Linked DNA regions of Homo sapiens. Changing the gene in region 3 together with the main gene of any one other region gives a genetic interaction. Each region holds a gene or a part of one and is shown on either strand. Other genes may lie near its edges.

The links.
Region 1: changes in THAP3 (region 3) and GEMIN5 together harm fitness more than expected from each alone (negative genetic interaction), as found in Homo sapiens cells (one large-scale study listed by BioGRID).
Region 2: changes in THAP3 (region 3) and ACTL6A together harm fitness more than expected from each alone (negative genetic interaction), as found in Homo sapiens cells (one large-scale study listed by BioGRID).

The regions. Positions count from the first base shown.
Region 1 is NC_000005.10:154,896,706-154,900,359, forward strand, and holds part of GEMIN5 (gem-associated protein 5), read right to left. Parts: intron 2,606-3,654; coding exon 2,486-2,605; intron 1,946-2,485; coding exon 1,735-1,945; intron 1-1,734. UniProt on the Homo sapiens protein: The SMN complex catalyzes the assembly of small nuclear ribonucleoproteins (snRNPs), the building blocks of the spliceosome, and thereby plays an important role in the splicing of cellular pre-mRNAs.
Region 2 is NC_000003.12:179,583,292-179,586,945, reverse strand, and holds part of ACTL6A (actin-like protein 6A), read right to left. Parts: intron 3,594-3,654; coding exon 3,498-3,593; intron 401-3,497; coding exon 314-400; intron 1-313.
Region 3 is NC_000001.11:6,630,944-6,634,195, reverse strand, and holds the end of THAP3 (THAP domain-containing protein 3), read right to left. Parts: intron 1,827-3,252; coding exon of another isoform or gene 1,806-1,826; coding exon 1,701-1,805; intron 1,401-1,700; coding exon 1,119-1,400; 3' UTR 634-1,118; downstream 1-633. UniProt on the Homo sapiens protein: Component of a THAP1/THAP3-HCFC1-OGT complex that is required for the regulation of the transcriptional activity of RRM1.

The DNA.
Region 1 (3,654 bases), on a different chromosome or scaffold from region 3:
GACCAAACTTTGGACTCAGGAATAAAAGCATAATGGGCCAAAGGTGCTGGAATAGACAAGCTTTGCAGATCCAAGAGCTGGGACAGGCATTAGGAGCCATGTCCAAATAGGTTTAATAGAGGAAGCTGGCTGGGAGAGAAGAAAACAGAAGCACAGAGAAGGCCTAGAAAATCTACTTTCACTAGATTTTTAGTTGCCATGAGATTCCTTGTGTACTCCTATAACAATATCTTCTCAGTTAAGCTTGCAAGAGTCTCTGTTGCACAAAACCAAAATAGCCCTTATCAGAATATTTAGCATATGCTTATTAGGTTTTTTTGCTTTGTTAAGGATGCTGTTTAAGAGAAAAATAAAATGCTAAACAGTCATTCTGGAAACTTTTTTTGATGGTGGATAAATTAAAATCTTTCTAGACTTGGTCATTTTATAAATAATGCCCAGTGGCATTATCTTTTAGGGTGTCCTATTTTCACCTCCATTTTTATTCTGCTGTTCCTAGAAAGCTACCTCCCCATGTACCACGTTCCTTGGGCTCTAAATATTCAGCTAAAAACCATCTGTAGGCCCTGTACTCTGTTAGAGAATGAAGAACTTAAAAAACCTCTTGTTAGTATCTCACAAAGTTATCTAAAGTGAATCAAATGTTTACATGTTTCAGAAACTAGGTAAGTGTGCCAATGCTTTAATCTGTTTTGATGTGTCAAAAAGGCAGTGGTATGTTACTGATTTTTAATCAGATGGGAACAAAAAAATTTAAGAAATAAAGAGATTTCCATTTTCCCACACTTTTCTCTTTTTTTTCTGAAGAGTCTCACTCTGTCACGTAGGCTGCAGTGCAGTGACACAATCTTGGTTCATTGCAACCTCTGCCTCCTGGGTTCAAGCAATTCTCCTGCCTTAGCCTCTCAAGTAGCCAAATTACAGATGTGTGCCACCATGCCTGGCTAATTTTTTTATTTTTAGTAGAGACAAGATTTCGCCATGTTGGCCAGGCTGGTCTTGAACTCCTAATCTCAAGCGATCTGCTGCATCTGGCCCAGTTTTTTTTCCATAGCTTACAGTTAAGAGGGGCATTTACAGGTAGAGTTCCATGATTTCTGTTAGAGGCCAACCATTCTCTCTTCAAGGAAGACAGTGCTGATAACATCAATGAAGAAACCCTAGACTGCCAACCCAAGGCCTGGGCTGACTAAGGTGTTTTTTTTTGTGTTTTTTTTTTTTTTTTTGAGACAGAGTCCCACTATGTTGCCCAGGCTGGATCTTGGCTCGCTGCAACCTCCGCCTTCCGGGTTCAAGTGATTCTCCTGCCTCAGCCTCCCAAGTAAGCTAGGATTACAGAAGCGTGCCACCACGCTCGGCTAATTTTTGTATTTTTAGTTGAAACGGGGTTTCACCATGTTGTCCAGGCTTGTCTCAAACTCCTGACCTCAAGTGATCTGCCTGCCTCGGCCTCCCAAAGTGCTGGGATTACAGGCATGAGCCACTGTGCCCGGCTCACAGGTGTTTTGTACAAACAGATAAGCAATGGGAATTACTGTGAATGACCATATTATCTCTTACTCTGAATACGGCAACTAACAAGTCATAGTACTTCAGTGGGATAGCATGGCCAGGGCTTGCTGGGCCTGCCAAATTGGCACAGCTTGTGCAACTGGGTTATTAACTTGGATTTGACTAGAAAAGGATTTGGGACACTTCCCTCTTGTATACTAGGAGATGAAATAACAGACTGACCTGTAGACTTTCATGCAGCTGCAGGGCTTCCTGGGCTCCCACCCAGTTGTTGGCCAGAAGCAGCTCTTGGGCACATCTGAGAGCCAGGGAAGCAGACAACTCATCCTCTCCTACGATGGCAGCCAACTCTGCAGCCGTTCTAAGTGATGCCGCATCCCCCTTTTTGGCCAAAACTTTGGCTGCATCATAAGCACAAGTGGCCCCTAAATAGCTATAATATGAATAAAAATGTGAAGAAAATGTCACAAACAGATTTTTATTCCCATTCCTAGAGGATGGAATCATTTCTTTCTATCTACTTTGCTGCATGTGCCTTCCTGTGGTCCCAGGTATGTCACTGCCCCGGTTGTTCCTGTGAAGGCTGAGGCCAACACAACTCAGCAGAGTGTATGAGAAACAATATCATATAGGTTAAGGACATAAGGAAAATGAGAGGGAATGACTCCTCTGTTGGGTTCAATCCAGCATGGGTTGAGGTTCCTTTATTTGATGTTATAAGAGACCATTAGAAAAATGCATAATTTCTTAATCTGCTGCTGAGGTTTTTCTTGAATAGTTATAGTGATTTATATAAATAAATCAGGAAGTAGTTCCTGATGAGTCTTATGAAACTAAGTTGAATATACATATCTTTTAAATAATTCCTTGCTGCTTTACCTCCACCTCTAAACTTATTACTTGTATTCTTGTCCTCCCCTTCCTGGCAGAAGCTCTCCTATGTTGGAAGCATCCCTCCACTCCTCAGGCTTACCATTTGGCAGCTACAGCATAGTGGCCATCTCTTTCTAGGACGGTTCCCCAGCTGAGGTACAAGTCCTTCAGGACTGGGTCCTCCGGGCGCAGCCGGGCCTTGGCAATCGCAATAGCTTCCCTAAAGGCAAGAACAGACCCTTTAGCCAATCTGAAAAGGCTCCTCTGTGTATGGTCCTAGGAGGGGCTGTAAGACAGGACAAACTGTCCCTTTTGTGTTGTCTTATTGTTCCAACTTCCTTTAAAAACTGCACTTGCATTATATAGACAAATTAGAAACATATGCTGCATTCGTTTCTTCACTTAGATCAGCAGTTCTTAAATTGTGGTCTGTGGATTCCTAGGGGGTCCTCAAGAACCTTTCAGAGGGTTCATGAGGTTAAAACTATTTTCGTAACAATGCTAAGAGTCAGTTATGTGCTTTTTTATTAAAAAAAAAAAAATGTGTTGACATTTGCACTGATTGTGCCAAAGCAGTGATTGGGAAACCTGGCATCTAAGAAGGAAGGCGGTGGCTCTTACAGTGGAAAAAAAGGAAGAATGCCCTTAATGAAGCAGTAAAAATTACAAATTTTACTAAATCCGTCAAGTCCAAAACACTTTAATATTCTGTGTGACAAATGGGAAGAACATTTTGTGTTCTCTGCTGCATTCCAAAGTAGAATGGTTGTCTCTAGGTAACACCTGTATGAACAAATTACAAGCTAAACTGGCTGCTTTTTCATAGAACCTTCTTTCTTCTAAAAAAAAAAAAAATGACTAACATAAATAACAGTTATTCAGTGTTGGGTATTTGGCAGATGTTTTTCTCAAAAATGAACAAAGTAGGCCTATCACTTCATTAAAAACAACCAACAGTATTTGTTACTAATGATAAAATGCGAGTTTTCTAGCAAAAATTAGAATTTTAGAAAACTTGTACCTACCACTTGTGTGCCTGAGTTTCCCATAAGTTAGAATTTTCTGATGAGACTGATGGTGATAGTAAGGAATGTGGTATTTTTGGGTATTTTATAATAAGATATGTTAACATTTGGAAGATCTGAACAACTCAGTAAACAAATATTTTTCAAATGACATACAACTGCTGAGTTGTAGCCAACATAAAGTTGTAGCTGGGAAAAAAGTGTTTTATTAGATTAAAGTGATCTAGAGAGAGCAATATTTTGA
Region 2 (3,654 bases), on a different chromosome or scaffold from region 3:
ATTTTAAATGCACTCCAGACAAGCCCTGACCAGTGCCAATGGGGGTATTATTAGAAAAGGCATGCATACATTAACATATTTCCACCTCTGTTTGAGAGGGGACATTGAAATTAGGCTGACAAATGTCCACTAATTAGGCAGAGGCATTTTGTTACATCAGAACACATAAAACTGGTTATTCCATTAGGTCTTCCACTCATTTGACAGTTATAAAATGCACAGACAAATGAAGCACTGGAATTATTTTTTGTATTTTTACTAAATTTAGTATAATTCAGTAAGAATATTTTTGCAAAGTAGCTCATCTACTAACCAAAGAGGCTAGAATGGAGCCGCCAATCCATGAGCTAAACCTCCGTTCCACTGTTGTATTATTTGCAATCAATTTCAACCGCATACTCTGAAATAGAAGAATATGCATTAGTACAATCAAATCTTGTGACTCAACTTAGAAAATTCTTTTTTTTTTTTTTTTTTTCAAATAGAGACAGGGTCTTCCTCGCCATATTGTCCAGGCTGGTCTTCACATTTGCACTCAAGCAATCGGCCCATCTCAGCCTCCCAAAGTGCTGGGATTACATGCATGAGCCACTTGCACCCAGCCAGGAAATTCAATTTTGACAGACTTCATAATGGCTCCCTGTGGTTCAAACACTGATTAAAATACGGTAATTTTGAAATAGCCAAGATAACAAGCATAGGTTAGACTAATGTACAGACTTTTAAAAGTACTTTGATTATGGCTTTTAACATGCGATTATATGATGAGAAAACATACAAACTTTAAAAAGCTGCATACTGAAGTATAGCATTCACAATTTCTATCCTAAAATAGCAAATCCACACCTAACACTATAAATCTGGTGCTGTGCTAAGTCTTTATTATTTCATTTCATCCAACACCAACCTAATTATCATCCCAATCTGTCTCCCTTTCTGTAGTCCTCCCCAACCTTCTAACTGCTTCCTTTCTAGGCTTTCATGCTATCCTAATCCCTCCTTAGTTCACCCCAACCCTTCTAAATAAAAACACAACCATCAGATATCAGGTTAGTTTTTTATTCATACTATTTCCTTCCAAATTAGTGCTTCTGTTCTGACTCTCATTTTCTCTTGATAACACAATTTTATTGCACAGTACTATCCCCTATATCTCACTTCCTATATGAAGAGGTTTTTTTCTTTCTCTTACCAAGGAATCTGCCTCTGGGGACAGTTCTCAAGTTGTTGACATCTTCCTATTATTCTATAAATGAACATATTTTTGGGGCTTTTCAAAGTGAAATAAGTATGTGTGCAGCAAGGGTGGGTAGAGTATGGGATATGGGTGGGTAGAAGGTACTGGGGATAGGGTAAACATGGGTTTTTGTAGGTAAGAAAGATTGGTAACTATTAAATAGAATTTTTTTCCTGTTCTTTCAGAGATTGTTATCACCTCCTAAAGGACAAGGATAGTTTCTAACTGGCCTTGACCACAGCTTGGGCCATGCTTATCTGTATTCATTATTCAGGGACTTTCTATGAAATCTAATCATTAGTATTATAGACCGGTGCAGTGGCTCACGCCTATAATCCCAGCACTTTGGGAGGCCGAGGCGGGTGGATCACCTGAGGTCGGGAGTTTGAGATCAGCCTGACCAGCACGGAGAAACTGCATCTCTACTAAAAATAAAAAATTAGCCGGGTGTGGTGGAACATGCCTGTAATCCCAGCTACTTGGGAAGCTGAGGTAGGAGAATCACTTGAACCCAGGAGGCGGAGGTTACAGTGAGCTGATATCGTGCCACTGCACTCCAGCCTAGGGGACAAGAGCAAGACTCCATCTCAAGTAAATAAATAAATAAATAAATCTCCAATCAATCAATCAATCTAATGATTAGTATTATAATTCAGGTATGCTCTAGATCTCCAAGAATTTAGAAAATACAAGGCAGATGTCAACTGTGTGCCTATATATTTAGATATCACTTTTAATAATAGAAATGTGGCACACGTAAAACATTATTTTATATGGGAAGCTAAAAGACTATTAAATATACAGATTTATAGATATTGTTAGGGCATATGTAACCACTAATAAGGTTTTTTAAATGTAATCTTCAGTGCAGAACACCTTACAAAAAAAGCACTTGAAGTTTTGTTGTTGTTGTTTTTTTTTCCTGAGCCAGAGTCTTGCTTTGTCACCCAGACTGGAATGCAGTGGCATGATCTCGGCTTACTGCAACCTCCGCCTCCTGGGTTCAAGCGATTCTGCTGTCTCAGCCTCCCAAGTAGCTGGGATTACAGGCACGTGCCACCGTGTCCGGCTAATTTTTGTTATTTTTTTTTTTTTTTGAGATGGAGTCTTGCTCTGTTGGAATGCAGTGGTGTGATCTCAGTTCACTGCAACCTCCACCTCCCGGGTTCAAGCAATTCTCCTGCCTCAGCCTCCCGAGTAGCTGGAATTAAGAGGCTCCCGCCACCAGGCCCAGCTAATTTTTGTATTCTTAGTAGAGATGGGGTTTCACCATGTTGGCCAGGCTGGTCTCCCTGACCTCATAATCCATCTGCCTCGGCCTCCCAAAGTGCTGGGATTATAGGCGTGAGCCACCACGCCCAGCTGATAGAAATTTTAAAGTTAAAAGATTATAACTGTCATTCTGTTACCGAAGTACTATATAAATTACCTTCTCAAACCGAGTTTTTCTATTCTTTTAAAAGTTATTATAATATACCCACTGATCTTTTTAAAACAAACATGAGCTCATCAGTCCACTGCTAGATTTTATCCTGTGAAGAAGGAGGTATTTTCCCCTAGAGATTCAGCATAGCTCCACTGACACCTTGAGGCTTCTAGCCTCAAGAACTATAAGACAACAAATTTCTGTTGTTTGAAGCCACTAACATGTACTTTGTTACGGCAGCTCTAGGAAACTAATCCATCTTTCTAGCCATATTGCTTTCCCCACTTACGTAAAGACTAGAAGCCAACTACTTTGAATTACTGGAACATACCTGTCTTCTCTTAGTATTTTTGTAAATGGTTTTATTCCCTCCATCTAGATATCCTTTCATAAATTAGCAATGAGTTGAACTATTCATTCAAACTATAGCTTCTTCAGGAGGCTATCCTCTGATACTCCTAGAGAGTTAAGTAGTGGCTTCTTGGTGTTCCCAACAGCACCTCGTTCATGACATACTGAATTGTTGAGCATGTTACAGTCATCATTTTCTGCATGTCTAACCATCCTAGTAGACTGAGCCCTTGGTGTGCAGGGACTAGTGCCTAGCAGACTATACATATTTAAATATTAATAAATGAGATTCAAATAATTTAAGAGAAACTAATAGATGTCAACTAGGAAAACGATTAAAGGATATTAACTTTAGTGATACTATACCAGGCACACACAAAATATCATGTATCTATTGAAAAATGGACGCTTATCTACAAAATTACACCATCAGTGAGGAAATATATGACTGAAGAATACCATTAAAGAACAAACAGAACTTACTGGAGGAGTTTTCTGAGACAGCTCTCTATTCAACCTGTCAGTAAAACTCTGTATTAGTGTGTTTCCTCCTGCCACTATTACACTGCCATAGAGACCCTAGGATAAAAATACAAGAAAAATCAATTAGTTCCATATGTTTCCAAAAGTTTTAAATACA
Region 3 (3,252 bases):
ACCACAATAAACCTTTCCTGAAAGCAGAGGCTGGCGCTCTTCCGTGTATTGTGTGTTCATCTTCAGGAGGGAGGGAACCCCTTCCCCAGAGGCCTCCTCCCCATCCTTCACTCCTCACTCAACCACAAGGCTTCACGTGAAGCTGGGGTTCCATTTTCTACATTAAACAACATTGCCTGAGAAATAAATAGACCCCAAGTTAGGAAATCAGGCTAGAACTTTTTTCTTTAATTCACTAAAGCTATAAATTAGACAAAATAGGAAGTCAGTTTTTTTTTTCAGACTGAGTCTCGCTCTGTCACCCAGTGACAATACTAGAGGGCAGTGGTGTGATCTCGGCTCACTGCAACCTCCACCTCCCGGGTTCAGCTGATCCTCCTGTCTCAGCCTCCCAGGTAGCTGGGACTACAGGTGTGTGCCACCACGCCTGGCTAATTTGTGTCTTTTTTAGTAGACATGGGATTTCACCATGTTGGCCAGGCTGGTCTTGAACTCCTGACCTCAAGTGATCTCCCCACCTCGGCCTCTCAAAGTGCTGGGATTACAGGCATGAGCCACTGCGCCCGGCCACGGAAGTCAGTCTTCTTAGAAGGAATCACGGCACTAGAGAAAATGATGATGGGAGCGACACCGTATAGAAAGACACTTTATTACACTGCCCACTCACACCAGGCCGGGACAGGAGTCACTCCTTAGAACCCCGAGCGGCTGTCCAGGCTGATGGAGGAGGGGACCACTCACCCGCCACAGAGCCAGCCCCCTCACATGGCTTCCTCCCTGAGGAGCATCTCCCACACTGGGGCTTCCAACGATCTTTGCTCTGCGTGTGCTGAAAGGACAGCGTCCAGAATCAGCCTCAGCCTGGACTTCTGTTACCATGGGAGGATAAGCTTGTCATGCTCACAGATGTGCACTCCTAGTGCCACGCCTCTAAACGTCCCCCAGACGGCATTGGGGCTCTCGCCGGGGAGCTTGGCTACTGTCTCGATCCCCGGCCAAGCAGGCCTCATGGCCAACTTTCTCAGTGTCCACAGCAGACAAAAATGTCCACAGCCAGAGCTCCAAAGCTCTGCCGGCCCTGGTGCCACTGCCACCTCTGCGTCCGGAGCCTGTGGGGCTCAGCTCTGCTGCTCTGGCCCAAGTCTGGCCTGGAGTCCCTGGTGCCCTTTGCAAGCACGGAGGCGGCTGGACATCCTTCGCATCACCAGCCTCTGGGCCTGCAAGCGCTTCCGGAGCTTTTCATTTTCCTTCAGAGTGAGGAAGAGTTTTTTCTTCAGGGAATCTAAGTCCAAAAGGGCATAGCTGTGATCAGATGGCTGCTTGTTGGGGGTCCTTCTCAGGCCTGCAGGGCCAGTCGGCCGGCCAACAGCCTCTGTTGCTTGCGGCCTCCGTGGCGAGACCTGAGGACAGGGGAGTGAGAGCCTAGAGCTGCATCACCAGCAGGAAGGCGGGCCATGGTGAGCAGGCCACCAGACACGCACACAGCACAACCCCAGGGCAGCTAGACACTCCGGGCTGCTCCCCCAAAATCCAGATGTGCCCACACCATGGTGGAGAATTTGACTGGGGAGCTCTGAAACCCAGGCTGCACACCCTGCCTCGGCCACACAGGTCTCATGGTGGGTGCTCACTGGTTTCCATTTTGTTTGGAGCAAGTCATCTTGTGTCCAACCACAGACCACCTTTGCACTCAGTCTTACCTGTTTTACGTGGCCTTCGGCATTTGGGGGCAACTGAAGCTCTTCAAGTGCAGTGTCCATGTTTCTCCCAGGACTGTCCTCTCCGGCCCCCGCCTCAGGGAGGACCTGGGAACGGCAGGGTGAAGTCTGCACTACAGCCCTGCACATGCAGGGCCCTCCTGCAGCTGCTACTTGTCCCTCTAGGGGAGTGGCAACAGCCAGGGACCAGCTCCAGGGTCTGTGCCCCTCCACAGCCAGCTTCTCCCTAGCACACACCCTGGAACTGAACTTTTTTTTTTTTTTGAGACAGTCTCGCTCTGTCACTTAGGCTGGAGTGCAGTGGTGCAATCTCGGCTCACTGCAACCTCCACCCCCAGGGTTCAGGTGATTCTCGTGCCTCAGCCTCCTGAGTAGCTAGAATTACAAGCATGTGCCACCACGCCTGGCTAAATTTTTTTTTTTTTTTTTTTGAGACGGAATCTAACTCTGTCACCCAGGCTGGAGTGCAGTGGCATGATCTCGGCTCACTGCAACCTCTGCCTCCCGGGTTCAACCAATTCTGCCTCAGCCTCCTGAGTAGCTGGGACTACAGGCACATGCCACTACACCTGGCTAATTTTTTTTTTTCTTGAGATGGAGTTTCACTCTTTCACCCAGGCTGGAGTGAAGTGGTGCGATCTCAGCTCACTGCAACCTCCGCCCCCTGGGTTCAAGTGATTCTCCTCCAGAGTAGCTGGGATTATAGGCATCCACCACCATGCCCAGCTAAATTTTTGTATTTTTAGTAGAGACGGGGTTTCGCCAGGCTGGTCTCGAACTCCTGACCTCAGGCAATCCACCTGCCGCAGCCTGCCAAAGTGCTAGGATTACAGGTGTGAGCCACCAGGCCCAGCCGAATTTTTGTATTTTTAGTAGAGATGGAGTTTCACCATGTTGGCCAGGCTGGTTTCGAACTCCTAACCTCAGGTGATCCGCCTGCCTCGGCCTCCCAAAGTGCTGGGAATACAGACGCAAGCCACTGCGCCCAGCCCGGCTAATTTTTATATTTTTAGTAGAGATGGGGTTTTTACTATGTTGGCCAGGCTGGTCTCAAACTCCTAGCCTCAAGACATCCACCCGCCTCAGCCTCCCAAACTGCTGGGATTATAAGCGTGAGCCACCTCGCCCGGCCCTGGAACTGAACTTTAAGAAATCAGGCACGGCCAGGTGCGGTGGCTCCCGCCTATAATTCCAGCACTTTGTGGGGCCAAGGCAGGAGAATCCCCTGAATCCAAGAGTTTGAGACCAGACTGGGCAAGATAGCAAGACCCCCATTTCTAAAAAAAAAAAAAAAAAAAATTTTTAATTAGCTGGGCATGGTAGCACATGCTTGTGGTCCCAGCCACTTGGGAGGCTCAGGTGGGAGGATGGCTTGATCCTGGGAGGTTGAGGCTGCTGCGAGCCATGACTGCACCACTGTACAGAGCCTGAGCAACAGAGTGAGACCCTGTCTCAAAAACAAAGAAAAAGGTTGGGTGCAGTGACTCACATCTATACTCCCAGCACTTTGGGAGACTGAGGTGGGAGGATGGCT